Homo sapiens: one gene and its partners. The protein of the gene in region 2 interacts with the protein of the main gene of each other region in a pairwise test. Each region holds a gene or a part of one and is shown on either strand. Other genes may lie near its edges.

Region 1 (8,696 bases), on a different chromosome or scaffold from region 2:
GGGATTCTGTGGCCATCGGTCTGGGTGTGGCTTGGGCATCAGAAGTTCTAAAAACTCCCCAGGGGATTTTTTTCTTTTTTTGAGACAGGGTCTGGCTCTGTCACCCAGGCTTGAGTGCAGTGGTTCTATCTTGGGTCACTGCAACCTCTACCTCCTCAGTTTAAGCCATTCTTCTGTCTTAGCCTCCTGAGTAACTGGTATTATAGGCATGCACCACCATGCTTGGCTAATTTTTTTGTATTTTTAGTAGAGATAGGGCTTTGCCATGTTGGCCAGGCTGGTCTCGAACTGCTGACCTCAGTTGATCCACCCGCCTTAGACTCTCAAAATGCTGGGATTATGGGCATGAGCTGCCAAGCCTGGCCTTTTTTTTTTTTTTTTTTTTTTTTTGTAAATAACAGAATAGACAGTGCACCCTGAGAGAGGATCAGGGTGTGCTCCTTGTAAGGATGAGATGGCCCCCTGGGGGATTCTGGTGTATAGTCAAAATTAGAAGTTGTTCTCAACTGGTTTCCAAAGGGATGTGAGGTGAGGGGAAGCATGTTTGTCCCAGACGTTTCTAATCACTGTGTTTGGGACTATTCCCTTCTCTTAGAGCGATGGTTATCAAGTTTGAGCATTCCTTAGAATCACCTGGATGGCTTGTTAAAACACAGATTATGGCCGGGCATGGTGGCTCACACCTGTAATTCCAGCACTTGGGGAAGTTGAAGCGGGCAGACCACTTGAGCTCAGGCATTCGCGACCAGCCTGGGCAACATGGCAAAACCCTGTCTTTACAAAAAATACAAAAATTAGCTGGGTGTGGTGGCATGTGCCTGTAATCCCCTCTACTGGGGAGGCTGAGGTGGGAAGATTGCTTAAGCCTGGGAGGTCGAGGCTACAGTGAGCTGAGATTGTGCCACTGCACTCCAGCCCGGGTGATAGAGTGAGACCCTGTTTCAAAAAAACAAAAACAAAACACACACACAAACAAACAAGGAAAAACACAGATTGCTGCCCCCTCCCCTGCACCCAGTGTATCTGCATTCAGTAGGTCTGGAGTGGGCATCTGAGAATGTGGATTTCTAACAAGTTCCTGCGAGATGCTGATGCTACTGGCTAAGAAACCAAACTCTGAGAACCACTGCCCTACAGGCTGACACGACCAGCTTAGGAAAATGTCCAGAGAGTAATTTTTCTCAACACAACATAAAAACCAACATAAATCTATACAGTTTTCTTTATCAAATGTCATCTCCTCTGTGCTGGCTTATCCCTGCCTAATGCTTGCTAAGTGCCTCACTTGGGCTTGTACCTTTCCTTTGTCAGTGTCACTATCTGAGAAAGACTTGAAGGTGACTTGAGAGAAGCATCCTGCATCAGCAGAGAAGGGTTGTTCCCAGTGATGTGCAATCAAACTAGCTGGTTCTGCCCTTTCCAGAGGCTGCCTGAGTTCGCAGCTGGGACCGTGGGGCCCTGGGGGGAACCACAGCATCTCAGTGACTGGTGAGAAGATGAAGCAGTTGTGGGTGGCACCATGGCCATAATGCCTTCCTCTTCTCTAGGGGCAGGTCTCTTGCCTGTGTCATCAAATGTGATCTACCTTTGGTTTCTCTGTAGGATTTATAAAAAAAATTACTATGTAAGAAATGTACTGTCAGGATTTTGGTTTTAGAAAGTGGGATCAAGTGGTACGCTGGAGCTAACTCTTATAACTCACAAGAGCCGATTTTTCACATCTCTTTCCAACTCCACATTCAGTGACATCATATTGTTTGCTTGAAGTTGGCTATTGTGGGAGTATTTACACCACAGAAATTGGCTTACACTACAAACTGGAGGGGTTTTCCCCCCAGAGAGCTAATTTGCCGGCATATCTCTGGTTGTGTATTTATCCACATTGCTTAAGAATCTATGATTTTACTTCATTGTTTCAGCATACAAATATCTTTGCTTGGTGCTACTGTGTTTCTCATTACCTGCTTACATAATTAAACACACATGGATGCAGAACCTACTCTGTAGCCGGGCTCTGTGCCAGAGTCTGGGGATATGGAGATGAAAGAGGAAAAAGCAATGAGACAAACTCCCTGATGTCCTGGAGATCCCAAGTCCATGGTGGGGAGCTACCACCTCTGATACAGCCACAGTTTCCCAGGGTGAGAAGAGTGTGTCAGCAGAGGGAGAGCAGCCTACCTGGGAAGCCAGAGAAGGCTTTGCAGAGAGCATGAGTGAGCCCACACAGCTCAATCTATCTGTGACAGAGAACGGCCACTGAGCTGTTTCAGACTCAGCATGTTTCATAATCATGGGTTTGTAATGAGCAACAGAAAGCAGTTCAATATTTTCCACAATGAGGATCTTTGACCTGTGCCAAAGATCTGTTTTTATTCTGGTTGAAACAGAATTCTATATTTTCTTCCCTTCTTAGGGTCTTGCTTCTCAAAGATTTTCCAACTCTTTCTAATTCATCTTCTGGAGTCTCTTCCCTCACTATTGCTTGCCAGGGCAGGGTGAGCCTCCTGAGCTACTCTCCAAGTGGGTCGATTGCAGTGAAGCCTGGAGCAGCAAATGATGCCATCAGAGGCAGGTGTGAGGCTCACAGGTCCCAACGCACGGGCCCCGGTTTCTGTGCCTATGTGCAGAGGTGGAAGCTCGTGACTGTCATCCACAGGAGAGGATAGGACTTGTTTCCCACACTCATGCCAACACTGTGTGCTATTATCCAACTTAGCAAAACCTGATAAGAAAACAATATCTCTTTAGTTTGTATTTCTTAATCACAAATGAGCATACATTCATATATAGATAAAATCATATTTAATTTGAACAGAAGTGTACCTTTTCCATTCATCAAAGCCTCAGGAGTTGGATACCTAGAATAATACATTTATATGCTCAGCCTCTTCTCTCAAGAGTCTTCATGGTTTCTTGATCTAGGATTGTTTGGGACACCATTTTCTAACACCCTGGAGATGTGGCAGCACTAACTCTACATATAGTACTTGTCATAAATCTTTGCATTCACTGCAATGTGTGATGGGTGACGTTCCCACACAGGGCACAACTCCCTAGATGCCTCCCTGCATCTTCCAGCAGTAGGAGCCATGACACAGAAAAGATAAACTTTGAGTTAGGCACAATCTCCAGGTGCTAGCCTACAGCTCCATACCTTTCTCTCCCATTGGTTGAGATATGCCCCTATGTATCAAAATTAGTGAAAATGGCATTCCAAGACCACAGCTCCTCACCTCCATTTGCAGTAGACTTCATGCCTCTAGAGATCGGCATGTCTAAAGTCAGAATCCACACAGAGAATGTTGTGCACACAGGTGAATGAAGGAGGGCAGCAGGCTCCCATCTCTCACACTCTGTATTCATCACTTCTTGTTACTGAACCTGGCCTCATATTCGGTCACCAGGGGCCACAGGGACTCTTTTTAAAGGGTTGGGAAGGAAGAGAGTCTTAGGATCCCCACCCGCTCCTTCACCTCCTTTGAGAAAATACAAATCAGGGGAACAAAGCGATTTTACAAAGAGCCATGCAACATCAGTATCATTATGCAAAACAGTACAAGGTAGAAGCCCAAGCCAGGACCCAAGCCAGTTGGCAGAGAGGGGTGTCATCTGGACACACAAGGCTTCAGCAGTGATGAGTCATGTATTGTGAATGGACGAAATCGTGGCTTTTAGTCCATGGAATGAATCTGGGCAGAGGATAAAGCCAAAAGATGGGTGCTACTTAGCAAATCAAAGGAAATGACTTTAAAAGCCTGGCTCTCTGATTTATAGAGAAGCTTGTTGCTATGTGATGAGGCGGAGGAGAGTAACAAAAGGGTGTTTGAAGATGTAACATATGCAGATTGCACCCAGTGGCCTCTGGAGGATGGGACAGCCTGCCCTGGTGATGTCTCCCAATGATGTTGTCTGTAAAGGGTTATGGATTGGTGAGCTCTGAATAACCCTTAGGTCAGCGCTCACTACTACTTACTTTCCTGAGAAGCCCAATCTGGACTGAATTCTCAGATTCTGTATTTCTTCTTGATAGAACTCCAATAGCCTGTGTTTCACATATGCACGTCTGATCCCTATAGAGGTGTATGTTCAGCTTTTGTTCAATGCTCAGGGGACTGGCAAAAACTCATTTTCCCAAAATTCTAGTTATAATCACTTTGGATTGTTCCACATTAGGTTTTTCTTAGTCTCAGGGGTCTATGTATCTTCTGTCACAAATTTTGGGAGAAAAGTTTTGGGATCTCAGCAGCCATGTGTCTTGGATCCCTAGTACCAAGAACTATCTGAATGTGGAATGTGTAATATAACCATTTTAGGGACAGGACTTTCCCCTGGCATCTTCTGATTTAGCCCTTGGAGAAACTCTGTTTTATTGTATGAATACCTCCACATCTGTATTTTCTGAGATACAAAGGGAAAAATACACAATGTCAGATTTTTGTTTTACATCTTAATTTCAACTTCTTGCCCGGTTTCTAGGAATTTGAATCCTTCTTAGTTCTAGCAATGACACAGTAGTTATCCTTGGGGTGGAGGATTTGGAGGTGGTCAAGGTGAAGAAACAGTTTCTGGAGTTGAAAGAAGCTGATGTTGAGAATAGGCTTTATACTTTATAGTGAGGTTGATCTTAGAAAACTGTCCTCAATGGCTTGTTTATTTATTTTGTAAAATTAAGAGTACCCACCTCCCAGGTTGGAAGTAAAGATTAAAAGGTATCATTGCTCAATCCCCTAGCTCATAGGGTGAAGGCTCATGACTGACTTTAGAATAAAGGAAGCAAGGTATGAAGAGAGCCCACAGAGGCTCTGATCACTCAATGTCCTTTGACTTTCATGACCAAGTTCTTATTTGAGGTTCAGTAAGATTATTGCTCATTTCTCTTTGTTTATTTCTGGCTTCTTGAGCTTGCCCTTCTTGGTCGAGATAAGCCATGGTTTTTGGAGTCATCCTCATTTTCATGAGCTTCTCAGATACCTTGTTTGAAACATCACGTCTACCCAAGTTACAGTTGTTCCCCAATGGCAGGAACTATTTTGTGCTTAACCAACTATATATCAAGCATCAGCAAGGTGCGTAGCATATGGGACGTAGCCAGGGGATGTGTTTTGAGTGACTGGATTCATCTAAGTCTTGTTGCTCCTCAAAGTGAGTCTGAAAGGCAACCAACTAAAGAAAGAAGAAATGTAGGACTTCTTGATAACCCAAGGCCATAACATCCACCAATTCCAAGACTCAGTTTCTTCCCTGGATAGGGAAGGCTGGTTGAGTCTTAACCCAAGTGAGAACCATTGTCATCACCGGGGTTAGTCCTCCTGCTACACCACTGACCAACAGGAAAGTTTGTGTCTCCAGAGTGGACACATCCATAAAGAGGCCAAACCCAGTCAAGGTCTAAGCATCTGATGGCTATAACTTTGCTTCTTTGAAAGATAATAAAAAGCTTCTGACCTCCCATCAACAGCCAACCTGATTTCAAAGAGCCAAGAGGCCTCAGATTCGTCAACATTCCTTTAACGAGCTGAGAAACTTTTCATGGTAAACTCAGCAGCTGAGTAACAGGATGATGGCACCACAACAGGTAGATAATCAAGGCAGGAGGTCAAAGCATTGGAGCCAACACCCGCCCAGGATGGGGTATAAAAGGGCTGGGAGGAGAGGAGGCTTCAGTCTCAGTGGTTCAGCTTTCCCAGCTGATCTGAAGCTCCTGTGCAGCCTCAGCCCAACACCATGACCTCTTCCTACAGCAGCTCCTCATGCCCTCTGGGTTGCACCATGGCTCCTGGAGCAAGAAATGTCTCTGTCTCTCCCATCGACATTGGGTGCCAGCCTGGGGCAGAGGCCAACATTGCCCCCATGTGCCTTTTGGCCAACGTGGCACATGCCAACCGAGTCCGTGTGGGGTCCACTCCCCTGGGCCGCCCCAGCCTCTGTCTGCCGCCTACCTGCCACACTGCTTGTCCCTTGCCAGGGACCTGCCACATTCCTGGCAACATTGGAATCTGTGGGGCCTATGGTGAAAACACCCTGAATGGCCATGAGAAGGAGACCATGCAGTTCCTGAATGACCGCCTGGCCAACTACCTGGAGAAGGTGCGCCAGCTGGAGCAGGAGAATGCGGAGCTGGAGGCCACACTCCTCGAGAGGAGCAAGTGCCACGAGTCCACCGTGTGCCCCGACTACCAGTCTTACTTCCACACCATCGAGGAGCTCCAACAGAAGGTGAGGTGTGGGATCGCTTGGGTGTGCTGGGTCTGAGATGGCAGAGGCAAGACAGGAGGAATCCATGTAAAGCTCAGAGAACTTTGGGTTCTTGGTTTCTCTTGGACATGATCATAGACACCACACGTGGAGAAGGAGCCTAGGGCATGATGCTTTGTGTGTGAACTGTCTTCCTGTTCTCCTCAGATCCTGTGCAGCAAGGCCGAGAATGCCAGGCTGATTGTACAAATTGACAATGCCAAGCTGGCTGCCGATGACTTTAGGATCAAGTAAGTCAGGCGGAGGAGGGCCAGGGTGACTCCTTCCCCACCCTCCATCCCAATGCCCAAATACTTGTTGAGTGAGGGAATCATTGTCATTTCTTCCTTGCTAGATTCTCTACAGTAAAATTTTCATTACAATCGAAGCTGATGGAAGATGGAAGGGAAAACTCCTCATTAATCCAAGCATATATGTTTGTCTTCCTTCATTTATTTCCCTAAAATGGAGGATAAGGCAGCCTGAGTTCATTAACCAGGAGCAAAATGAGGTGATTTGAAGGATGAACTGAGCAAGACAGCCATTGGGTTTCATATATAAGTCAGAGGAGTCACTTACAGATGAGTCTTTGTCCAGATTTAATTAGGGAGCCCTAAGGTACCAGGTATAAGGTACCTAGGCAAAAATGAGAGAGGGGAAGACAGCTGAAAGCAAGGGATAAGGAGCCGCAGATCACGATCAGGCACCTGGTTATTGCTTATCTTTGGTAACTGACAGCCCCTGCAATGGCATGAGCGTTGGACTGGGTCCCAAGATGCATGATCTTACGCAAGTCAGTTGATCTTCCTGAACTGCAGTTGCCACAGAATACAATGGCAAAAATGTATATTGTGCAATGTAGTGTTGTGATTTCTCCATTAGACCATGAGCTCTTTGAGAAGAGGGGCTGGGTCTAATTCACCTTTGAGGACAGAGGGCTAAACAGAGTGAATAAATGAGGATCCAAGGTGGTGTGGGAGGTAGGAAGCCAGGGCAGCCGAGAGGGGCTCTTGGGGGCATTCTTTTTGACCCTGTACCTCCTGTGATGAAAGGCTGGAGAGTGAGCGCTCCCTGCGCCAGCTGGTGGAGGCAGACAAGTGTGGGACACAGAAGCTCCTGGATGATGCGACCCTGGCCAAGGCCGACCTGGAGGCCCAGCAGGAGTCCCTGAAGGAGGAGCAGCTCTCCCTCAAGAGCAACCACGAGCAGGTGTGGCCCTGGGCGCTCAAACTCCTGGGGAGGGCACTGGGCAGACAGGGGAGCTCCCCAGCCCCGGGCTCTCAGAGCATTGCCTGGCCTCAGCTGGCATCAGGATGCAGGGCTGAGGTGGGTCTGAGGGTCCAGAGGGCCTCTGTGGAAAGTGCAGACTTGCCTTGGGCATGAGGAAGGTGTGCAGGTGGGCTCTCCCGAATGCCCTCTGGGCAAGACTTTCCCATTTGCTTGTGTGTGGGACTCCCCTCCTACTGCTTGCCAGGGGCGGGGTCCTGGTGCTGTCTGCTCCATCAAAGGCCCTTTCCTCATGCAGGCTGTCTGTCCCTTCCTCCCTTCTGCAGGAAGTAAAGATTCTGAGGAGTCAGCTGGGGGAGAAGCTCCGGATTGAGCTGGACATTGAGCCCACCATTGACCTGAACAGGGTGCTGGGGGAGATGCGGGCTCAGTATGAGGCCATGTTGGAGACCAACCGCCAGGATGTGGAACAGTGGTTCCAAGCCCAGGTGAGTGGGGGGGGTATAGAACCAGGGGGTACCTGGCCTCCATCTGGGCAGGGAGGTGACCGTGTCTCTCTGTGCTCCAGTCTGAAGGCATCAGCCTGCAGGACATGTCCTGCTCCGAGGAGCTGCAGTGCTGCCAGTCGGAGATCCTGGAGCTGAGATGCACGGTGAATGCCCTGGAGGTGGAGCGCCAAGCCCAGCACACCTTGGTACGTGTCCTTCACTCTCACTGCACTGCAAATGCCCCGTGCCATGGCCTAGTAGCATTTTATTTTGGAGGTCTCACTACCCAAGTTTCTCCCACCTGTTATCACCATCAAAATTTGAGGCATGTAGCAGTTTCCCTTGGGGCCTTGTATATTTTATCCCCTTATTTCCCACTACAGAAGGACTGTCTGCAGAACTCCCTGTGTGAAGCCGAGGACCGCTTCGGCACGGAGCTGGCCCAGATGCAGAGCCTCATCAGCAACGTGGAGGAGCAGCTGTCTGAGATCCGGGCCGACCTGGAGCGGCAAAACCAGGAGTACCAGGTGCTGCTGGACGTGAAGACCCGGCTGGAGAATGAGATTGCCACGTACCGGAACCTTCTGGAAAGCGAGGACTGCAAGTACGTGTGATCTGGGCAATTCCTGGCCAAATTATTTACTCAATTCTGATGAGGTCCTCAGGGCAGCAGAAGGGCTGTCTCTATGTAGAATGAGGCTCTCTGTGCACTCCTTTTCAGTGAGTCGTTGCCCTGTCCTGCACACT
Region 2 (7,112 bases):
CAGTCAGCCAAAAAACAAAGTTCTTTTAGTGGTCCTAGCACATTGATAAAGAGCAGGGTATGGGGAAGGGGCCAGGTGGGGTGGGGGTGGGGGGGGCGGTGCACATTTTTGTATCAGGTGTGAAGAGCTGTATTCATTGTTCCAGTGAAGACATTACATCTGAAAAAACTGCTGGAAATAAATCTTGCCTGATTAACATTAAAATAATCCACAGTCATTGGTTTTAAGATCATCTACCTTCTGCAGAGGCCCAATAGATGCATTAAATGGAGATGTAATAGGAATAAACACTTCTACCTCATTCTATCATTTGATGATAGTAGTGTTAATAATCTCTGCAATTCCCCCAGTGATGTCCTATCTTTTGGTTTATTATACAGCAGAAAAGAGAAATTCCAACAGCTTCTACTTGACCCTTCCTATCCTAACGACCCTTAGCCCATAAATGAGAGCCAATATGGGGACATGACCAGTTACCAAGTATGTCTTTAACGACTGTACTTTCTGAACTGGGAATAAACAGGATGGGCTCAAGTACCTACTGAGCTCACTGGACTCAAATTTGACCTAAAACTCAATTTTTCTGTCACTTCACCACCATAAACTCCTACTCTAAATGGTGGTCCAGTAGCATTTTGAGACCCTAGCAACTAGCATCAATTCAGAACCAGAAATATTCCCAAAGGTCTGAGTATTTCTATTCCCCAATTCACAGTCCCTCTAGAAAGTGGCCACAGGTCCCTTTGGGAAAGGGGACTTGAAGCACTGCTACAAGTATATACTGTAATTTTTATATACTGGATTCTTTCTCAAGAGAACCCAGCGTCCCCTTAAATTAAGGAGTTCTGGCCCTTGAACTATTTTAGTCTGGAAATTGGATGAGTCATGACTCTCCCTTCTGGTAGACCTGACGTTATTTCATTTACTTTTTTGTTGGTTTGTTGAGACAGGGTCTTGCTCTGTCGCCCAGGCTGTAGTGCAGTGACATGATCAAGACTCACTACAATGTCAACCTCCCAGGCTCAAGTGATCCTCCCACCTCACCCTCCCATGTAGTTAGGACCACAGGCACATGCCACCACACCTGGCAATTTTTCGATTATTTGTAGAGATGAGATCTCCCTATGTTGCCAAGGCTGGTCTCAAACTCCTGTGCTCAAGTGATCCTACTACCTTGGCCTACCAAAATGTTGGGATTACAGACATAAGCCACCACACTTGGCCTTCATTTTCATTCATTCAACAAATATGTATTGACACATTCTACTCAGTACAAATTCGTGTATTATACATTCTATATTCTTATATGGAATATATATTTTTATAGAATATATTAAATGGAATATATAGAATATATCCTTATATGGAATATATAGACTATATTCCTGTATGGAATATAGGTATGGGGATAGTATTCACAAAACAAAAACAAAAACAAAAAAAAACAAAAACTGAAGTACAAGGAGATGAGACTTTTGTTAAAATATCTTTTAATTTTACCGGCAAAATACATCAATGACTAATATATTCCCGTATGGAATATATTCTTATTGGAATATATTCTTATATAGAATATATAGACTATGTATATATACATATGTGTATATACCTATATACATATATATATCTTGGAGATATAAAACTAATTGGGAATAATGTCATATATATAGATAGTAAGCAAACATTTTTTAAAACATTTTAAAGACTCCAAACTATTCATTTCTATCCACCTATAAAAAACTAGCAATTAAACCTGTCAAATCACAGCCATCTTGCTTTACGCAGATTCAGAAACATGAGATCCTTTTACCTTTGAAACTCTAGTTTCAAAGCTGTTCTAAAGTGACTTGGTTTTAATTTATATACTTGCAGGGATAAGAAGTAGCTGTAGGGCCATAAAAATGTAAAGAATACAGTATCGTGCCCATACACAACTGCAAACACTTATTTTTAAGTGTTCGTAAAAGATAGTGGTCTTCAGAAACACCCCTTTTCAGATTGGCAAACTTTCAGAGTTCAAAAGTGCATGTATTACACTTTTATCCCCAACAAAGCTAGTAGCTACCCTCTAAAGCAGAGGTTAACATTTTCTTTTTCCAAACCACAGAATGGATTATGATCCCATGTGCATACTCCCATGGTTCCCTTCCCCAAGTTGTATGAAAAAATAAAGCAAATAATTCTGAGGTTTTAGGGGTAGTGGTATAGGGATAGTATTCACACACAAAAAAACTGAAGTACAAGGATATGAGACTTTTGTTAAAATATCTTTTAAAGTAATTTTACTGGCAAAATACATAAATGATTAACCAGTTTTAAAATAGTAAACTTATTTATTTATTTATTTTTGAGACGGGGTTTCACTCTCTCACCAGGCTGGAGTGCAGTGGCATGATCTTGGCTCACTGCAACCTCCGCCTCCTGGGTTCAAGCGATTCTCCTGCCTCAGCCTCCCGAGTAGCTGGGACTACAGGCGCACACCACCACACCCAGCTAATTTTTGTATTTTTAGTACAGACAGGGTTTCACCATGTTGGCCAGGATGGTCTTGATCTCTTAATTTTGTGATCTGCCAGCCTCGGCCTCCCAAAGTGCTGGGATTACAGGTGTGAGCCACCATGCCCTGTCAAAATATTAAACTTACTAATACATTGTAATTTTTAGTACTTCTATAATTACTGCTTCATAAAAAAGTGGATTTTTCCAGCTCTCCAGTTCAGATGCTATTAACAGGTAATCAGATAGCACTGACTAAGTAGAAATAGATTAAGAGTAATACCTAAATTTAATGTATTTTAGCATATTGAAATGAGTATCATCAGTGTATATTTCATTTATCACTTTGTCTACACTTTATTAGGTGGCCTTAATGCTTGTCATTGACAAATGTTAACTTTCCTCACAAAACCTACACTATTCACTTTTTTCCAGTATTTTTACCTTCCTTATTAAAAATGTTTCTACCATCAAGAATTTAAAATAGAATCATGACATTGCAATCCAAACACTACCTTGGCTTGCCAGATTAGTCTACGTGTCACTCCTTGGTGTAAAGCTATAATTCCAACTTCCAGCAAAGAAGTATCTCTGAATTCAAATGAGAATGACATTTCTATGGGAATAAATGTGAACTGTCTCACATTTAACCATTAAGAATTTACTCATACGTCATCATGATAACCTAATGTTAGACTGAGAATCACTGCTCTAGTGTGGCTCCAGAAGCTGTCAGTCAGGAACTACTGATACGATTTCACTTGTCCAATAATTTTATACTTCCATCTTGTAGTACAAAAACATTTTAATTTTGGCCTGATAAATGACTAAAACAATTGCCGGGGGAATTCAGAGAGACACGTTTCATTATTCAATTCCTAACTGAATTGACCCTCATTGATCCTCAGACTAATTTAGACACTTTTCAATAACATTCACAGTCAATCTCAAAGAGAATATTATTTTTGAATTCTTGCTATTGAAGTTAACATTTACATCTAAAAGAAAATCATCATCCTTATTGGACAAGTAGAACTCAAACAAACAAACAAAAAAACTCTAGTCATAATAATGAAAATACTGAGTTTCTGATGTACAAAGAGTAAAATATTCATATACTGGAAAAATGGTGCAGTATAAATGGGCAAAATTTCACTCTTTCTAGTAGGAAGTCAATAAATAATTGATGTATCAAAAAGTAGCGGTATAATCATACAATTTGGAAATATAAATTCTTCAACTACTAGAATTGAAAGAGGAAGTTTCTTCTGTCAATGTGAAAGAGGGACTGCCTCTTTTTTTGTCACAAGCCTTTTAGAACTGTAAGATTTTTTAAAACTGTTTGCATATAATGTTTGAAGGTGGGAATGGGACCAGAGAGGCGACAATTTTACCTGGAGAAACAACCTCCCGAAACCATTTAGTAAGTAAAGTGAATTCCATCACACCTACACCCATTCACTGTTTTTATTTTTTTTTTGAGACATGTTCTCACTCTGTTGCCCAGGCTGGAGTGAAGTGACACGAACTGGGCTCACTGCAATCTCTGCCTCCCAGGTTCAAGCGATTCTCATGCCTCAGCCTCCTGAGTAGCTGGAATTACAACTGTGCACCATCATGCCCAGCTAATTTTTGTATTTTAGTAGAGATGGGGTTTTGCCATGCTGGCTAGACTGGTCACTGTTTTTATTTTATAATTAATTTTAGCTAAAGCATATGGGTTCATTTACAAAAATAAGTTTGGTCTTTTATTATAAATACTTCTAGTTGTAAAAAATTCATTTTCACATTTGAATGTCCTTGAAAGTATCCAAAGGATTCATTCTCCTTCTGCATTCTGCTTCTCAGAAAGTACTTTTGGGTTAGATCTGTTCCGAATTCTTTTTCTTTTTCTTTTCTTTTCAGAAGCAGATGATTGTGTGTCCGGTGCCTTTTTCTTTTTCTTCAAACAACTAAGAGGATTGGGACCACTTATTTTCTTGCGCTTTTTTCTTCTACTCTGTTCAGTGTTTTTCACTAAACCCTGTTCCTCTTTGAGATGTTTGATACTTTCTTTCTCATGCACTGAGACAAGCTGACCTGACTCCACTGCTTTTACAAAGGCAATTGTTTTGGGAGAAGGTTTGTCCAAAACCATAGTGTTCTGAATAATAAACATGAGAGGAACTCCAGGCTTCTTTTTTACTTTCACAGACAAATTCTGATCCTATTTAAAAGAAAACAGAATTATTTAGTTCAAATGTCAATTAAGGTACCTTAAATAGGTTTTCAAGAACTGTATTAAAAATAAAAGAGATCACAGATTTTATTTTTCAAATGAGTAAGCCTCACTTATTCATTTGAGTAATGGGGGTATATTTCATGATAAAGGAAGAAAAACATAAAAACTGAGCACAGTGTTAGTAGCAGCTGTGTGAACCGGATTTATCGATACTCTAGAGCCACAAATTACAAACTAATGCAAAGGTAAATGTGTTAGGTGGGTTTCTCCTGTTTCCACTCTAAGATATTCTTTGGAAAGGGTCAAGAATGCTTAAAGAGGTTAAAGGAAAAGAAACTGGGTAGTAATTAGCTACTCAGATTCTAAATTCAGCTCTACCTCTGTGTAATTTTATAATTCTGATAATCAAATCTGTATGTATGTGAACTTAATATCACCCCCAAAAGTCTCTCTTCTCCTGCCTTCAAGAAGATGGGAATATTTTTCTTCAAAAGCCTGAAATATTTCATACTGTTGGTACAGTCTTAAGCAGTATGAACCATGACTTTGAGAAACAGTATGAAATACAGGAACATGAAAAAAATTAACAGAATACAGGCACTTTGCTCTACTTATCTTCCCTTCAAGAACCCTACAACAAATCATCACATCTCATGTCAACAATTTCTTGTTTTAAAAAAAGAAACTTCTGCCAGTGTCCAGCATGATGGCAAACACCTGTAATCCCAGGTACTCAGGAGCTGAGGTGGAAGGATCACTTTAGCCTAGGGGTTCGAGACCAGCCTAGGCAATATAGTGAGACCCTCAAGTCTCAAGAAACAAACAAAAAAAGCAAAACAAAGGAATCATTAAAAAAAACAAAACCCAACCTTCCACTACTAAAAAGAATATCAACATGCTTAAAGTTTTCCTCAAATTCTCAAATGACAATTGCTTTTACTGACTGCAAATTAACTTAGAAGCCTGTATTTTTAAAAGTCTAATCATTCTAACTTTTTTCTGATTATAAATAGCTCCATATGAAGTATAAATAGAAATGGTGAAAATTGCCTGTGGTTTTAAAAGTAGTATCACCTGTGTTGCCACAAAATAATGATGAGGATTTCCCTCTTCAACCATGGAAAGCAGACATTCTGATCCACTCACTGCATTCTTGAAATGAGGACAATTTCGAACTTGGCATTTTTGTGCAATCAGTTTTGCCCCATATAAGTCCTTTCCCAATGTTTCTAGCTCTTTTAACACACATCTGAAAAGAAAAATTATAGCAGATACATTTCACTTGTTTACATAAGGTGTAAAAAACAATAGTCGATTTTTTCTTAAAATAAAACTATGCTGTTACAATCTAAATTTGTCATCTGGTAACCATTTACTTTAAAAGATCACTTGAAAAATGCATTTACCAAGTAGGAAGAACAACAGTTAAAATTAACTGAGCACTTATTATGTTCCATGTAGTATGCAAATTGCTCTTTACATAAATTCTTGATTAATCTCAAAGTAACCCTATGAAGTTAGGTCGCTTACCTTGAAATTATCCTTATTTTAGAGCACCCCATTCTGAGATTTCAAGTAACATGCCAAAGTTCAAGTAACTAGCAAGTGGTACCGAGACTTGCAGTTTGACAACAGCTCCCTTGTCCCAACCATAGCGTAATAAGCTTCTGCTTCAAGTACAAATTGGTATACTTTCAAAACATTTTCAATTCAGAACAGTAAAACTTCTCACATCATCAAGTTGTTTTTAAAAAAACATTTAGTCATAAGAGTTCCTCAACCCTAGCCAGCATTTGCCAGATTCTTTCTTGCTTCATCTCCTTTATCATCTTTCTGTTTCAAGAAGATTTTGCTTGCTTTAGTCATTAGACTTGACCTCTATTTTGAGTACTGCCAGCCTGTGGATGTCCTGCTATCAACTCTTCAAATTCACCATGTCTAAGATCAAACCACTTTCCTGTATCCAAATTTATCCTCCAAGACTTGCTATCTCTTTGAAATTACTATTTTCCCAGACACCCTAGATAGAAATCAGAAATCACATTTGACCTTCCTGCCCTTCTTCACCCATACTCCTATGCCATCAGCTGCTCAACCTATCTATCTCAGTAACGTAGCGTTTCTTTGGAGAACCCTTGGGTTCCTGCCTTTCCTCTCCCAGGTTTAGGCTCCCCTTACTTCTTGATTAAACAACCGCAAAACAGATTCATGCCTTTGCTCTCTTGTTTCTCCAATTTACCCTTCACATCACTGCAGTTATCTTTTCTAAAATAAAACCCAGGCCTGATAACATTCTGCTGTTCTACTTCATCAATTAACTCCACACATCTTCAAACCTGAATATCAGTAAACTCTGTAGAGACCTAACTACTAGTGGCCAAGAAATATATTCCAC
Region 3 (8,551 bases), on a different chromosome or scaffold from region 2:
CACAGCACTTTGGGACACCAAGGCAAGAGGACTGCTTGAGGCCAGGAGTTCAAGACCAGCCTGGGCAACACAGCGAGACCCTGTCTCTACAAAAAAAAATCAAAAACTGAGGTGGGAGGATCATTTGAGCCCAGGAGGTCGAGGTTGCTATGAGCCATGATCGTGCCATTGCACTCCCACCTGGGTGACAGAGTGAGAACCTGCCTCAAAAAAAAAAAATTCAATTAAATATAGAAAAAATATTCATAGGCTGGGTGCGGTGGCTCACGCCTGTAATCTCAGCACTTTGGGAGGCCAAGGCGGGCAGATCACGAGGTCAGGAGATTGAGACCATCCTGGCTAACGTGGTGAAATCCCATCTCTACCAAAAATACAAAAAATTAGCCAGGCGCGGTGGCGGGCACCTGTAGTCCCAGCTACTCGGGAGGCTGAGGCAGGAGAATGGTATGAACCTAAGAGGCGGAGCTTGCAGTGAGCCAAGATTGTGCCACTGCCCTCCAGCCTGGGCGACAGAGTGAGGCTCTGTCTCAAAAATTCACAATAGAATTTGATATAAAATAAATGCAACATTTTATAAATGCTGTATTATGATACTCTAATAAAGTAAATTTATGACAATAAACTCCAAAGAACCATATTAAAATTGTTTAGTTCATTTCAATCCTGTATCTCTGATCCCATCACTATACAAAGATTTAAAAGAACTTCCTTATGCTGTTAATGTATTTTTCAAAAAGCACTAATAAAATTCCATTGATTAGCAAACCAAACACAGGTCCAAAAATAAAGTTACTAGACTATTTTGCATCAACTCGGTAAATAATACAGCAAGAAAATATTTCCTCAGTATCTATAAATAGGAATTGTGGTTAACAGCAAAAAACCCTAGATAGGAAAAAGCTCTTAATTTTACACTTCAAAAAATGCCAAAAAAGCTTCAAACTTATTACTTGTAAATCAAACTGTAATCAATCAGATATTTTATTTTATGTTGTTATTTATTATTATTATTATTTTTTTTTTGAGAAAGGGTCTCACTCTGTCAGCCAGGCTGGAGAGTAGTGGCCTGAGCATGGTTCACTGCAGCCTTGACCTCCCAAGCTCAGACAATCCTCCTGCCTCAGACTCCCAAGTAGCTGGTACCACAGGCATGTGCCACTACGCCTGGCTAATTTTTTTTTATTATTATTTGTAGAGATAGGATCTCACCATGTTGCCCAGGCTGGTCTCAAACTCTGGGGCTCAAGCAATCCTCCCACCTCAGCCTCCCAAAGTGCTGAGATTAAAGGTGTGAAACTTTCTGTGATACATTTTTAAATGTCAGTTATTTCACAATATCAGATTTTTTATCTTTTATTTTTCAGATGGAGTCTCACTCTGTCACCCAGGCTGGAATGCAGTGGCACAAACTCAGCTCACTGCAACCTCCGCCTCCTGGGTTCAAGTGATTCTCCTACCTCAGCCTCCTGAGTAACTGGGATTAACAGGCCCACACCACAATGCCTGGCTACGTTTTGTATTATTAGTAGAGACGGGGTTTCGCCATGTTGGCCAGGCTAGTCTCAAACTCCTGACCTCAAGTGATCCGCCCACTTTGGCCTCCCAAAGTGCTTCCCAGGCACTTTGTGCTTTACAGGCGTGTGCCACCGCGCCTAGCCACAATATCAGATTTTTATGTTACTGTTTTCTCTAATGATAAAAGCCATGTCATTATCAACTTGTTCACAAGCAAAAGGCCATTTTACACAGTATTAGCATTATATACTTCAACTTTTACCTTCCAATAAATACTTCTTGCTTTCATCTATAGAAATGACAGTGAGATTTTTTTAGTTTATGCTACTATACCTACTACAAATTATGGCATGAAGATTTTGTCAGAAAGGACTATTTCATTGCACAGTTCAGGAATATTTTACATGTTAAGATGAAAATGAACAAGGTGAGCCTCCAATGTATCAAATTCTGTGCTGTAAGAAACTGGAGTTACATCAGGCTTTGGTACACTTTTGAGACTGTAAGGCAAACAGGGTAACAAAAAAATAGATACTGCAATGATACCCATTCCAATTATGAAATAAAACTTAAACTTCAAGTTAATTCACAAACTGCTCTTCAAGTATTCTCTACTTAGCAAAAGCACAATTCAATAAATAAAATCTCAGTCACACAACATGCCTAATAATGAGGGCTCCTTTGCATATCAGATATGCCGTGTACCTGTAGAATAACTTCATTAGTACCTAAAGGTCATCTGAATCAACAACCACCAATATTCACTGATACTAAATTGTGGGAAGAAATGTCTCATTTGCTGTCATATAAAACCAACATTACCTGAATAATCATAGGTGTCTACTTTTCAAGATGTGAAAAAAACTTCATATATTACCTTGATCAGTAATTCATAACCCTGGTTGCACATTAAAATAACTTCTGGTAATTCCTAAAATATACTGATGTCAACCTCATCAGAACTGGAGGAGGAGTGCATCAGTAGTGTACTAAAACTCCTCAGTGATCCTAATATGTAGCCAGGAATGAGAATTATCAATCTCTTAGATTAGAGATGCTCCTGAAGGTTACTCTATAAACCAATGGGATCAGTTCTCCCCTCCATATCTTTCCGTGCACAACAGTGGAAGGGAAAAATGAGTGCCACATATTTCAAATGATTTTTTAGCAAATTGATTCTGGAGCATGTATACATGGTAGAATCTCAAACTTCAAGCATAAGAAAATTCATAAACTCTATCGTTAATGCCCAGCTATGACGATGCTGCAGACTTGTGCAAAGAGTTAATAGACTGTACTACTAACAGGGGAGGGGGCAGCTCACCCAATAACAGATGTCTGATTACAGACGCAGTACAAGAGCGAAAAGTACAGACTTTAAAGCCGGTCAACCCGGGGCTCTGCCACACACTGTTTACCTAAACCTGGGTTTCCTCCCTGTAAAATGGGAATTCACATCTACTTCATAAGTAGATATTAACGAGCTAAAACACCTAACTTAGTACGTAGTTACGATGATGATGACTCAATTTATAATACTAAGCTAATTAATGTCTGTTGAGTTTAACTAAAAGCAGAGGACCTGGAGAAAAGACCGGTCTAGGTCACTGCCACTGGCCCGCAAGCTCCTTTTCACAAATGTCCCGATGATGACATGTCATGAGCAGAAGACCAGGCAATTTCAGGCCATAGGAGAGAAAGGATGCAGAGGACAGGACGAGACTTGTAATGCCAAAAGGGGCCCAGAGGCCGCGCATCCCACCTATCGAAGCCTGGGCCGCGGCGATGCCGCCAGGTCTCCAGGATGAACCGAAGGGAGGCCGATGGTGGAGAATAGAGCACGCAAGGTCCCTCACCTTCACTACAGCTGTCCCCCGGCTGCCCTGCCGGCCACTGTCTACTCCCGCTCCGAGCTTGTTTACAACCAGGGTAGCCATCCTCGCAGGGGAAGCGCCACAGAAACAGCCTTCAGAGTCCTCAACTGAGAGGCGGGGTTGAGCCACCTACCCAGAGGCCTCTGCGCACGCCACCGGCGCACAGGCGCAGTAGGACACTGGGCGCCGCTTAGCCGACTCTTACTCCTCCTCCCCGCAATCGTCGGGTGGTTAGTTGCACAGCCTCGCGCATGGGCACTTTTGTTATTTTTCATTATGTAGTCTGCAGCTGCTGGAGGAAAGACAAGAAAAAAAAAGAAGGGACAAAACGATTAAAGTTTTGGGGTGAAAACTCCAGATCCTTTAATGATTTTTCCTCTCGAATCCAAACCAGCCAGGGCGTGAACTGAGGGCGGTGAGGGGGTACGGGCATCTCCCTGCATGCAACGCGGTTTTTGTATAAACTACAAATCCCAGCATGCCACTCTCTCTCTCTCTCTTTTTTTTTTTTTTTTTTTTTTTTAAAAAAAAAACTCCGGCAACGTTGGCCTTTGGGAGGCCGCGTATTGTTACCTAGGGGTGGTTTCTTTTCCTGCAGTCGCGATGTGTGATTGCAGATGGAAAACAAAGTATTTTATGCCTACGTTTCTAAGATAGAAGAAATGGACTTGTTGAAAAGAAGCCAGTTTGTAAAGGACACAGTAGGAGAATTTAAGGTACCACCACCAGAGAGAGGTTGAGAGTGCGTTTGACTTTTGGTTTTGCCAAACGCGAGGTTTTCCGTTTCCTTCCGGGGCAAGTTGAACCTGTCCAGCCCCCGTAGGCTGTGGGTCAAAAGTGCCGGTCAAAATGGAAGTGAATCCCCCTAAACAGGAGCACCTGCTGGCGCTAAAAGGTAAACTTTTGCGAACCTGATTCCCCCTTTTCTGTTTCCTTGCATTCCCTACTTATCGAAGCCTTTGCCATGTAGGCCTCATCCTTCTTAAACACTCAGTGCTCGCCCTCCTGCTCTGTCCTTTGCCGCCAAGCGGGAGGAAGCGATTTCTCCTGGATGCTTTTTAGGTTTATGGGCCCCTTTCTAGAACGAAATAGATACCTGGTAAATCGTTCTTTCTGATCTGTGCTGCTTCAGTCACGAGATTTTAGCCGCAGAAGCTGACGTCCCGCTCCTACCGTGGAGATCTCTGTGAATTACAGCGGGCATCCAAAGTGCTTTTTCCTTCTGTCTCTTGTTTCTTCCTGTGGCACTGACGAAGTTAATCAGGCTTCAGCTTCCCCTGTAAAATTAGTATTGCATGACAGTAGTGCAGAGAATTTAGCAATACATAGTAATACAACATATAACTTAGATTTATTCAAAACAAACTGCAGTTTACTTCAAATCACTGTGTATGTGGGAAATATGTCCGAGATCTAATGTCAACTCTCATTTTTTGTACACAGCCATTTTGAGTAAGTTTGGTGATTTAATTAGATCATTATTTAGGAAAAAACAGCAGCACTTTTTTTTTTAGGACAATTTTTTTAATGCCTATTTTCTGGAAACCTTTTATTTGAAATCTTTTCAGCTTTATTTTATTTGTTTTTTACTACAACAAATGCGCTTTTTGTTTCTTGGATGCCTTAATATATGGTTAACAATGACTTCTTGAATGAGCTGAGGAAATGCTCAATAAACATTCGGGTTCAATTGAATTGCGCTTACTTTACTTATGGCATCCATTTTGAGGAACGCCTTATCCTTCCCATTATGATGTAGTCATCAGACTTTCTAGAAGCTCATCAGTCTCATATAATGATGCCTGTGTTAGCGAGATTGTCTCTTACTGTGGAACTTTGTAATGTTTAGTGATACAGTGATGGGACCTGTAAGCTTAACCTGAGCAAATGATCTAGACTAAAATGGAGATTAAAATGGATTGTTACTCGTGGAGAAGAGGGAAAAGAAGAAAAGCAACTAATTGTCGTGTTCTTTATCTCACAATCTCACTTCAAGTATGTGGAGTAAATATTAATTCTCAGAGTTTAAGTAACTTTTCCAAGATCACATAGCTAGTGATTGAGGCAGTGTTTCAACGCAAGGCCTGCCTCTCTTTCCAAGAGTCCGTGTTGCCTCCTAAAGAATGAAGCAGCATTCTCAGAGATAATTCCTCTACCAGCTACTCCGATGGGAATTTGGAACAGTTCTATTAACTGCTACGTGTGATTTATACAAATTAGAAGCTATTAAAAACAGTTAAATTGCAGCCGCGCGTGGTGGCTCACCCCTGTAATCCCAGCAGTTTGGGAGGCCAAGGCGGGTGATCACAAGGTCAAGAGATCAAGACCATCCTGGCTAACATAGTGAAACCCCGTCTCTATAAAAATACAAAAAGTTAGCCAGGCGTGGTGGCGGGCGCCTGTAGTCCCAGTTACTCAGGAGGCTGAGGCAGGAGAATGGCGTGAACCCGGGAGGCGGAGCTTGCAGTGATCCGAGATCACGCCACTGCACGCCATCCTAGGCAACAGAGCGAGACTCCATCTCAAAAAACAAACAAACAAAAAGTTAAATTCCAGTGATACAGAGACTGCCACTGGGAATTTTTAGTTTTCTGTTATTCTTTTTTTTCCAAAACCAAGGATACCTAAGAAAGAATATTTAAGCAGCCTAAGCCAGGCGTGGTGGCTCACGCCTGTAATAGCACTTTGGGAGGCCGAGGCTGGCAGATCACTTGAGATCAGGAGTTGACACCAGCCTGGCCAACATGGCGAAAACCCGTCTATACCAAAAATACAAAAATTAGCCAGGTGTGGTGGTGTAATCCCAGCTACTCGGGAGACTGAGGCAGGAGAACCGCTTGAACCTGGGAGGCAGAGGCTGCAGTGAGCTGAGATTGCGCCACTGCACTCCAGCCTGGGTGACAGAGTGAGACCCTGTCTCAAAAAAAAAAAAAAAAAAAAAAAAAAGAACAATAAGCAGCCTAAACGGACAAGTGCTTCAAAATTGACTGATAGTTTCAACTTTATTAAACCTCTTTAGTACCATCTTATAGTTAACCCATTGTTCTAGTTAATCAACAATTTTCACACATTTCAATGTGCTGATGCTGAATGCCAAATGTATTAATTTAAGTGGTCATTTAAGTTCACTTTATCTTTTAATATGTAAAATGTTAAAGATAATATCTTGTTATTCTTGGTTGGGTGAGGTGGCTGATCACTTGAGATCAGGAGTTCGAGACCAGCCTAGCCAACATTATGAAACCCCGTCTCTACTGAAAATACAAAAATTAGCCAGGCGTGATGGTGTGCACCAGTGGTCCCAGCTACTCAGGAGGCTGAGGCACAAGAATCACTTGACCCTGGGAGGCGAAGGTTGCTGTAAGCCGAGATTGTGCCACTGCACTCTAACCTGGGCAACAAAGACTCTGTCTCAAAAAAAAAAAAAAAGTCATCCCTTGAGTATAACACTGATTGACTTTAGACAACAAGAGAATTTCTCAGTGCCATATTTTACAATGTGAAAGTATAAGGAACAGGGAAGAAAAACATTAGTGCATCATTAGTTCTTGAAAGTATATATGATAACATTTAGATCCATATTTAAAATATGGATGTTAAAGATCACAATTATTTATGAATTTGAGAGTTGTCAGATCTGTTAGTGGGCAGTATCAGTAGGTAAAAATAATGAAATTATTTCTTCTAACTCTTCAGAATCAGACAGTGATTCTATTGTGAAATGATGACAAGAATCCATACTCATGGTTATCCTAGCAGTGGGAGAACCCTCATCAAGTAATTCTCTAATGATTTTTGGGGAGAAGGGATTCAACTTATTTTTTTCTGCTGTTGTTAGGATGTGAAAAAGTCTGTTTTATGGCTCTTACAGCTTTGGGCCTGATTAGCAAGCCTAACTTGCAGATATTGGAAGGCTCCATTCTTGAGCCTATGCACCATATGCTGGAATTTATTATCAGTGACTTAATTTGGGGCAACTTGAGGACTTCTGTGCTCTAAGAGAAAAAAATAGGAGTCTAGACTTCTTGTTCTCTTCCAAACTGGAATTCAAAAGCCATGGTATTGGGGTCTCCATACTGTTTAATTGCCTGGATTATGAGGAGAAGACAGTGTCACAAAACTGGTTCTTAGCCTGGTTAAACCATATTAGCAAAGTTAAACCATATTAATGGTTTTAGTTTTTACTACAGAGAATGACGTGAAATCATCAAATATTCTATCTATATATTTGTTTGGTGGAATCCATATAATTTTTTTTTTTTTTTTGAGACGGAGTCTTGCCCTGTCACCCAGGCTGGAGTGCAATGGGAGTACGATGGCGCGATCTCAGTTCACTGCAAACCTCAACCTCCCGGGTTCAAGCGATTCTCCTCCCTCAGCCTCCTGAGTAGCTGGGATTACAGGCACACGCCACCACAGCCGGCTATTTTTTGTATCTTTAGTAGAGCCGGAGTTTCACCATGTTGGCCAGGCTGGTCTCAAGCTCCTGACCTCGTGATCTGCCCGCCTTGGCCCCCATAAAGTTCTGGGATTACAGGCATGAGCCACCGCACCTGGCAAATCTACATAATTTTAAGTATAAAATGATTAATTTTCTTCCAGACAGATTAGAATTTTTTTTTTTTTTAATGAGATGAAGTCTTGCTCTATCGCCCAGGCTGAGTGGCATGATCTTGGCTCACTGCAACCTCTGGCTCCCAGGTTCAAGCTATTCTCCTGCCTCAGCTTCCCTAGTAGCTGGGACTACAGGCATGCGCCACCACACCCAGCTAATTTTTTTTTGTATTTTGAGTAGAGATGGGTTTTCACCATGTTGGATTAGAATTTACAGTGATTTCATTGTCCTCAATTTAGTTGCCTCAAATTTTTAAATATTACATTTTTTGTTAATTCATATGAAAACAATATTTTAAGAATCATTCATTTACTCTTTGTTTCTGCTAAAGTTTTAAGACTATTATTACTTAATATATTAATATCGATACTTCCAAGTCCTTTATATCTATTGAGTTAAACATGTTGACTACTAGCGTTTTTAGGCAGGAAGTGATTTTATAGGGCATCTAGTTCAGATCCCTTATTTTGGTAAGAGAAAGAATTTTCAGGTTTGTAGATTACATTCACATTTACCAATAGCACTTTGGTAAAATACCACATTGGGA
Region 4 (7,629 bases), on a different chromosome or scaffold from region 2:
GGTATGTCTTTATTAGCACCATGAAAATGAACTAATACATCAGGAATGAATAAAAGGTTGCCACTACAGAATCTGTAGATATTTAAAGGAAACCAAACAAATAATGCAAACAACTCTATGTCAATACATTCAACAGCTTAGATGAAATAGGCAAATGACTGGAAATGCATCATTTATGAAAAGGGATACAAGAAGAAATAGAAAATCGGAATAGCCCTCTATCAATTGAAGAGACTGGACTCATAATTAAAACCCTTCCCACAGAGACAATGCCAATCCCGAATGGCTTTGCCATTGAATTCTACCAAGCATTTAGGGGAGAAATAATGCCAATCTAACCCAAACTTTTCCAGAAAACCGTGGGGTAGACACAGTGTCGGCGAGGGTGCTAGGGATTAGGGGACGGAGGCTGAGGCCTCACGGGTGGCAGGGATGCCCTTGGTGGGCTCTGGCCATGGACACAGACTCCTGGGATGAGAGGGGGACTCATGGAGGAACACCCACGCCTTGACCCTGAGATGGCCTTGCAGGGAGGGTAACTGAAAATTTACCCACTGGGGACAGTTGCCTACTTACTAAAACAGTTCCAGCCACCACCGCAGCCCCTGGAAGGCCATCCCCCCAGAAAATCCCCCAGGTCTCAGCAGGGCCTTGTCCACCTGTGCCCTCCAGTGTCGCCCATGTCAACCTCACCTAAGAGGGGCCTGACGCACGGTCCTGCAGGTGCGGACTCTGGGTCCTGAAAGCCCATGCGGAACCTGGTGCCCCCAGAGGAGGGCCTGGGGCAGTGCCAGTTTTGGGGAATCATGTGCATCCATCCACCCACTCCATGATGCTTTCGTCCTGATCGAGTCCCTTGTCTCCTGCGCAGGTGCAGCAGCCCCTCCCTCTCCCCCCGCATTGCTGCTAAGCGGGCAGAACTCTCGGGCGGGCGGCACACAGGGAGGGTGACCAGGCCTGGAGGCTGCGGTGCCCGGACCCCAGGCCAGCTTCCTGGAAGGTGACCCTGCAGGGTGGGCTCTCCCAGGTGGGACAGTGGGTGGGACAGTCCTGGGGCCTGGAGAGCCCCACAGCCCAGGGCACGGCAGCCAATGACCAGGCTCAGGAAGACCCAGGCATGGAGGCTGAGCCGGGACTGAGCCTTCCTGGGCGTGGCTGTGAGTTCCACCTGGTGACCCCCTGGAGGAGTTAGGCCACTGTCCCCCGTGACTTCTAGGTTAAGTCACTCATTCATAGAAACAGTCATGGCTAGAGACCAATCTGAGCTCAAAACCATGTATCCCCAGGAGCACTACAGAAAAAGAGAATCAGGCGACCAAGGGGAGTTTATTGGGGAGCAGGAGGAGGTGCTGACAGGTTCAAGTCGAGGCCAAGTGACATGGGGCAGAGAAGCTGGGAGGGAGGACAGGGGACCCAACAGGCAGGTGGGCCCCTGCTGGGAGGCAGGAGCTGGGGAGCTTCGAGGATGGAGATTCCTGGGAGTATGGAGGGGGGGGTCACCTCAGCACATGGGGGCCCCGTCCCAAGCGGGGGCAACCTCCTAACCCGAGTCAGGACCAGTTGGCCCTGGGGGATGTGCACATCAGCAACTGGACTCCTGGCCTGAGCAGAGGCCTCAGCAGGCCAGGGGGGAGCACGCGGGGCGGCAGAGGAGGGACACGCAGGAGGCCGGGCGGCAGCAGCTGGCCTGGTAGGAGGAGGCAGGGGCACAGCAGGAGGAGATGGGCAGGCAGCAGGCGGGCCTGCATATGGGGCGGCAGAGGAGGGACACGGAGGAGGAGGGTCTGCAGCAGGAGGTGGTGCAGCAAGCCGGCTGACAGCTAGACTGCTGGCAGCATGAAGTGGAAGCCCCAGAGCAGACGGGCACACAGCAGATGGGTTTGCAGCAGACAGGCTTGCAACAGACAGGCACGTAGCAGGACTGCTGGCAGGGGGAGGAGGTGCAGCAAGTCGGCTGGCAGCTAGAATGCTGGCAGCATGAAGAGGAATCCTCAGAACAGGTGGGCACACAGCACACGGGCTTGCAGCAGACAGGCACACAGCAGGACTGCTGGCAGGAGGAAGAGGCACAGCAAGTTGGCTGGCAGCTAGACTGCTGGCAGCATGAAGAGGAATCCTTAGAGCAGGTGGGCAGGCAGCACACAGGCTTGCAGCAGACGGGCACGCAGCAGGCCTGCTGGCAGGGGGAGGAGGCGCAGCAAGCCGGCTGGCAGCACGAGGGCGTGCAGGAGCTGGTGCAGCCTGATTGGCAGGGGCTGGGCTCACAGGCCGCCTGGCAGCAGGGGCTGGACACACAGCTCACTGGGGTGCAGACCAGGGTCAGGCAGGGGGCGGTGCCGCAGGGGGGCTCACAGCAGCTCTCTGGGCAGTCGTCCACTCGCCAGGAGTCAGAGCAAGCGCTGGAGCAGACGGACATGGTGCACGCGGCCATGCTGGGGTGGGGAAGACGTGAGCTGGGAGCTGGGGGAGGTGTGAGTGAGTGAGTGTGTGAGTGAGTGAAGGAGGGAGTGAGTGAGTGAGGTGCTCAGGGCTGTGGGGCTTTTAAATCCCTCCCTGGCGTGTGTTGTCCCGACAGGAGGCTCCACAAGCTTCTCTTCCTTGTTGGTGTTTAGAGCTGGTGGCTGGAGATGCGTCATTCATGCTGGTTTATCTGTTTGTTTTTCCCTCATTAAACTTGTGTGTATGTTGCAGGGCCGTGTTTCTTCATCGGTTCTTATTTTAGCCCCAGAAATGTGGTGGAAAATATTTCAAGCAAACTTTTGTTGAGTAGAGGTTTTAGAGATGAAGACTTCTCTAAAGGGAGGAATTCTAGTTTCACCTATCCTGTGTTTGGACTGATTGGATATATTTTATTACTTTTAGCATATTAAAATATAAATAGGTAGAAAAATATGCATTTCTTATAAAATGCAGCTGGCACAGAGGGTACGATGAAGCTAAGTGGCCCTCTCTTCAACCCCTTGTGCCTCGTAAGGGGAATGCTCAGAGATTTGGTATCTGGTGGATCTGTGCTTTATCCTTGTCTCTTCAGCTCTTCCATGCCACCCTCAGAGCCCTCTCTCTGTTTTATTTGAAGCTGCGCTCTGGGTTTTCTCCATTTTTATTTCCTCATGGTGACAGATCAAGTACTTTTTCACATATGGTGATTTTAGGACATACATTTTAAGATTTCTTTCTTGCCTAAAAATGTACTCAACTTTACCCTCACACTTATATGATAGTTTAGCTGGGTATATAATTCTGGTTTTAAGTCAGAATTATTATTATAAATAATAACAAAAAATCTGTTTTCTCAAAATGATGAACCTGTGTCACCATTTTTCTGTAGTGTCCAGCGTTGCTGATGAGAGACTGAGGTTGGTCATTTGTCATTTTTTATAGTTTGTCTCTCTCTCTCCGTTTAACTCTCTGGGAACATTTGGTTTTCTTTTTATTCTTCTTTTGTTTCTATGCGTGTGCATTATTTTACTTTCTGTGGTTAGAATTCATTGAGCCTTTCAATGTGGAGACTCAGGAAGTGTTTTGCGCTCTTAAAAATAACTCATCTCTCAAGGTCTTTCCTTTTGTGACTTTAATTTTGTCTCACGATGAATGAAATACATTTTTGGCTCACTGTAATGATGTTATGTTGAGCATTTAAACGTTTTTCCCCTCGTTTCACTGGACATCAGTTAAGCTCTGCTCATTGGTGGCAGTTCATTTGATTTTCTGAGTAAAAGACTATTTTATTCCAGGGCATTGGGGTCCTGATCCAGTTTACATTCTAATTTGTTTCCATCTGTTTCTCTTTTCTACAAATATATAAAGGATTTTAAAGAGCCTCCCTTTTTGTTAGACAATTTTGATTTTATTTTTTATAACTCTTTGAATATCCTTTCAGTGATTATTAGTAGAGGTTGTGCGAGAACTGTGTGCTTAACCCACTTTCTGGGACTGAAGGACTCGATGCTCCTTTCAGGAAATGACAGGAAAGCCAGGAAGGCTAGGATGACGTCATATCAGCGGGTGTGCTACAGACATGCACGGCGCAGGTGCGGTCTCCACATCAGCCACCGCGTGAGGGGTGACTCTGCAGCCCATTTTGACAGTTGCAGAAATGATGAGAGAAGATAAGTAACCTTGAAAGAGGACAGCTGGCCGGCAGTGAACCTGACAACCGCGAGCTCTCACTCCTTTCCCTCACGGCCATACATGGCTCCGTTCTGTCACACAGCTCCCAGAAGAGTGCGTGCTTCCTGAGTGGCAGGCAGGGAGGCAGGTGGTCCTGAGCCAGCGGGATGTGGTAAGGCTGACATGGCTTCTGGGACAAGCCCTGGGGCCTGTATGATAATTTGCTTTAGTTTTCCCATCGCTATCTCTGGCAGCCTCCTTAATCGAATGGGTGTGGTGATTCCTTGTCTCTTTATTCCTATTTGTGATCCACGCCCTCTGTCGCTCCCTTCTCCTGGTGTCTGGACCACCCATCACTGTCCAAAGTGTCTTTCCACAGTCATTGCTGTGCCCACAACAGCTCCAGGGTCTCAGTGTGCCTGATCTAAGTCCACGCCCTGCGCTCAGTGGAGACGTGTCTTTTTGGATCATGGAAATTTTCACTGGGGGCCACCATGGCAGTTTCCACGGACAATTGAATGATCACACCAATTTCTTTCTTTCTCTCTTTCTTTCTCTTTCTTTCTTTTCTTCCTTCTTTCTTTCTTTTCTTTTTTGACACACAGTCTCACTCTGTCACCCAGGCTGGAGTGCAGTGGTGCTGCAGGCCCCACCTCCCGGGTTCAAGCGATTCTCCTCCCTCAGCCTCCCGAGTAGCTGGGATTACAGGTGTGCACCACCACATCCAGCTATTTTTCTTTCTTTCTTTTTTTTTTTGTATTTTTAGTAGAGATGGGGTTTGGACATTTTGGCCAGGCTGGTCTCGAACTTATGGCCTCAAGTGATCCATCCGTTTCAGTCTCCCAAAAGTGCAGGCATTACAGATGTGAGCCACTGCACCCGGCCAGATCACATCATTTCTTAAATCAAGCAGACACTCTGGGGATCTGAGTGAGCTGAGCTGCAGGGATTAAACAGCCCTGGCTGGGGGAGGGAGGTGCTGGGAGGGGATGTGAGTCTGGAGGGCAGGGTGGCCCACGGCCGTGTCTTCTGCAAGTGACACACGTTTGGATTCTTCTTTTCCAAAATGTAGTCTTTTGTTTTATTTGACTCCCTTTCATCGTGGCTGGCTGCCCAGCACAACTCTGGAGACGCGATGACAGCAGCCCTCTGGTCTTGTTTCCAAAGTTAACAGAAGCACCTCCTGCAGCTCCGCACTAAGCCGGTGTTGGCTGGTTTGTCGCAAAGCCTTGGTCTCGTGCATGCAGTGTTTTTTCACTCTAGTTTACCAAGAATTTTGCCTCAGGCTTTTAAAGAAGGAGTGAGTTTGTTCATGTATGTGTGTGTGTGAATGTGTGTGTATTAATCTACTGAGTGTTCCAGTGGCTTTTCTACTTCTATTTTATGAGTATAGTTAATGATACCCTTTGTAACTTGAGTGATCTAAGATATACATTACTTGATAATGGCTCATTATCCCTTTTTCCCCAGCTTTATTGAGATGTAATTGACAAATAAGAATTATATAAATTCAGGATGTCTTGATACATGTACACATTGTGTGATGATTACCACGGTCAAGCTAATTAATATGTCCATCACCCATGCAGTTACCTTTATTTTGTGATGAGACATTTAAGGTGGACTCTCTTAGCAAATTTCAGTGTTACTGCGTCACATTCTGTGTTACAGTCAACTGTCCCCGTGCTGCACATGAGGTTTCCAGAACTGACTCATCCTGCACAGCTGAAGCTGTATCCTGTCATCAACATCAAAGTGGATAAAGCACACAGTTCTTGCACACCTGTATTAATAATCGCTGAAAGGATATTTAAAGAGTTATAAAAAATGAAAACTCCCTGCACCCCCGCCCCTGTGAACCCCCACTCTACTCTCTGCTTTGCCGAGCTTGGCTTTTTTAGATTCCACATATAAGCGAGGTCTGCAGTATTTGTCTTTCTGTGGCCTGGGTCACTTCACCTAGCATAGTGTGTGCAGGTTCATCCATGTTGCCACTAATGACAGGATCTCCCTCCTTTCTATGGCTGAATCGTATTCCATCGTGTGTATACACCACATTTTCTTTATCCACTCATCTGCTGATGGGCACTTATGTTGCTTCCATATCTTGGCTGTTGTGACTAGTGCTGCAGTTAGCATGGCAGTGCAGGTATCTCTTTGAGATCTGGCTTTAATTTGTCTTGTATATACAAGATTGCTCATCACATGGTAGTTCTATTTTTAATTTGCTGAGGAGCTTTGACACTGTCTTCCATAATGGCTGCATGTAACAGCTTAGTTTTTCTTTAACATAGGCACATAGAATCTCTTGCTTTATCTTTTTAAATGGGATTGATTTACAGTCCTCTCTCCCTCTCTCTCTCTCTCACACACAATTATTCCTGGTTTTGGCATCAGGGTCTCACCAGTCTTATATTAGAGGAATCCAGAAGATCTCTGTCTTCTTCTGAGCTCTGGAATATTTCAAGTATCACAGGAAGGTCTTATATTGAAGGCTGATGATATACACCTTTAAAACATCTGAGTCTGCCTTCTGAAGAATATCTTTCAATACCATTTCCATATTTTCCTGGACATCATTGTATTAAAAGTTTCATTTTGTTATTCAGTGTTGGTAATTTATATTTTTTAGAACACAGTCCATTCATTTATATTTTCAAATTTTAGGATAAACATACCCATGCTACTTTCTTTTACATAAAAACAAAAATCTCTCAATCTGTGGGCATGTTTCTTTTTCAATCTTTAATGTCTGCTTATTTTTATTAGACTGTATTTTTATTTTCTTTAGATTTTCCTTGATGAGCATCTGCGGATTTTTGTGGACATTTGAAAAGAGGGGGTCGTGCTCCTTCTTGTTAGAGATTGTTGAGTAAAAGTTTCAGAAAGCGTCATGGGTGGTAAACTTTCTGGATCCCTGTTGTTTAAGAACAGCCCTCCTGCTGACACCTGCCACAGCAGAGTCTAGGTGCAGAATTTCTTCCCTCCACCTTAGTAGAGGTTGGGCCACCAGTGTGTCTCAGATTTGCATAACTTTAATCTTCTTGTGAAGCTTTTCCTCTTTCCAGAACCTGGCACTATTCTCTCCTTGTACTTCATTCATTTCACCAGACCCCTCCCTAGTCACTGTCATCAGCTGTGTTCATCCCCTCGGTCCCATCTTCTTTTAGTTCAAGGAACTTTTATTCCCATATGGGTTTGATGATTTTCTTTCATTCTTGGCTTCTCTCCCCACTGTGATCCCAGAATCACAGACCCTGAGTCTCCTGGGTTCATCTCCCTTAGACCTCAGGCTTTTCTTGGCTTCATCTCTTTGTCCTTCTGCATTGGGTTTCGGTCATTTTCTGAACTGGGGGTCATGGTGTCAGCTCTTCTGCCTCAGGGTCTGTTATGAGGACTGCCATTGAATTCCATATGTTTGGAGTGTCACGATTTCAGTCTCCAGGAATCCAAGGTGTTTTCCTTTCTTCTCCTTCTCCTTTTTGGTAGCACTCTCTTCTTGTTTCATGGAGTAACGGC

Evidence for each region.
Region 1: the proteins of UTP23 (region 2) and KRT38 interact in binary tests that used the Homo sapiens proteins (3 or more experiments, as listed by UniProt).
Region 3: the proteins of UTP23 (region 2) and TRIM23 interact in binary tests that used the Homo sapiens proteins (3 or more experiments, as listed by UniProt).
Region 4: the proteins of UTP23 (region 2) and KRTAP10-5 interact in binary tests that used the Homo sapiens proteins (3 or more experiments, as listed by UniProt).

What each region holds. Positions count from the first base shown.
Region 1 is NC_000017.11:41,437,950-41,446,645, reverse strand, and holds the start of KRT38 (keratin, type I cuticular Ha8), read left to right. Parts: upstream 1-5,662; 5' UTR 5,663-5,724; coding exon 5,725-6,216; intron 6,217-6,402; coding exon 6,403-6,485; intron 6,486-7,286; coding exon 7,287-7,443; intron 7,444-7,787; coding exon 7,788-7,949; intron 7,950-8,029; coding exon 8,030-8,155; intron 8,156-8,332; coding exon 8,333-8,553; intron 8,554-8,696.
Region 2 is NC_000008.11:116,769,046-116,776,157, reverse strand, and holds the end of UTP23 (rRNA-processing protein UTP23 homolog), read right to left. Parts: intron 5,967-7,112; coding exon 5,792-5,966; intron 4,703-5,791; coding exon 4,316-4,702; 3' UTR 1,474-4,315; downstream 1-1,473. UniProt on the Homo sapiens protein: Involved in rRNA-processing and ribosome biogenesis.
Region 3 is NC_000005.10:65,620,823-65,629,373, forward strand, and holds the start of TRIM23 (E3 ubiquitin-protein ligase TRIM23), read right to left. Parts: upstream 3,512-8,551; 5' UTR 3,453-3,511; coding exon 3,372-3,452; intron 1-3,371. Other genes in the region: TRAPPC13 (trafficking protein particle complex subunit 13), read left to right, coding at 4,239-4,284.
Region 4 is NC_000021.9:44,578,148-44,585,776, forward strand, and holds KRTAP10-5 (keratin-associated protein 10-5), read right to left. Parts: upstream 2,458-7,629; 5' UTR 2,432-2,457; coding exon 1,616-2,431; 3' UTR 1,308-1,615; downstream 1-1,307. UniProt on the Homo sapiens protein: In the hair cortex, hair keratin intermediate filaments are embedded in an interfilamentous matrix, consisting of hair keratin-associated proteins (KRTAP), which are essential for the formation of a rigid and resistant hair shaft through their extensive disulfide bond cross-linking with abundant cysteine residues of hair keratins.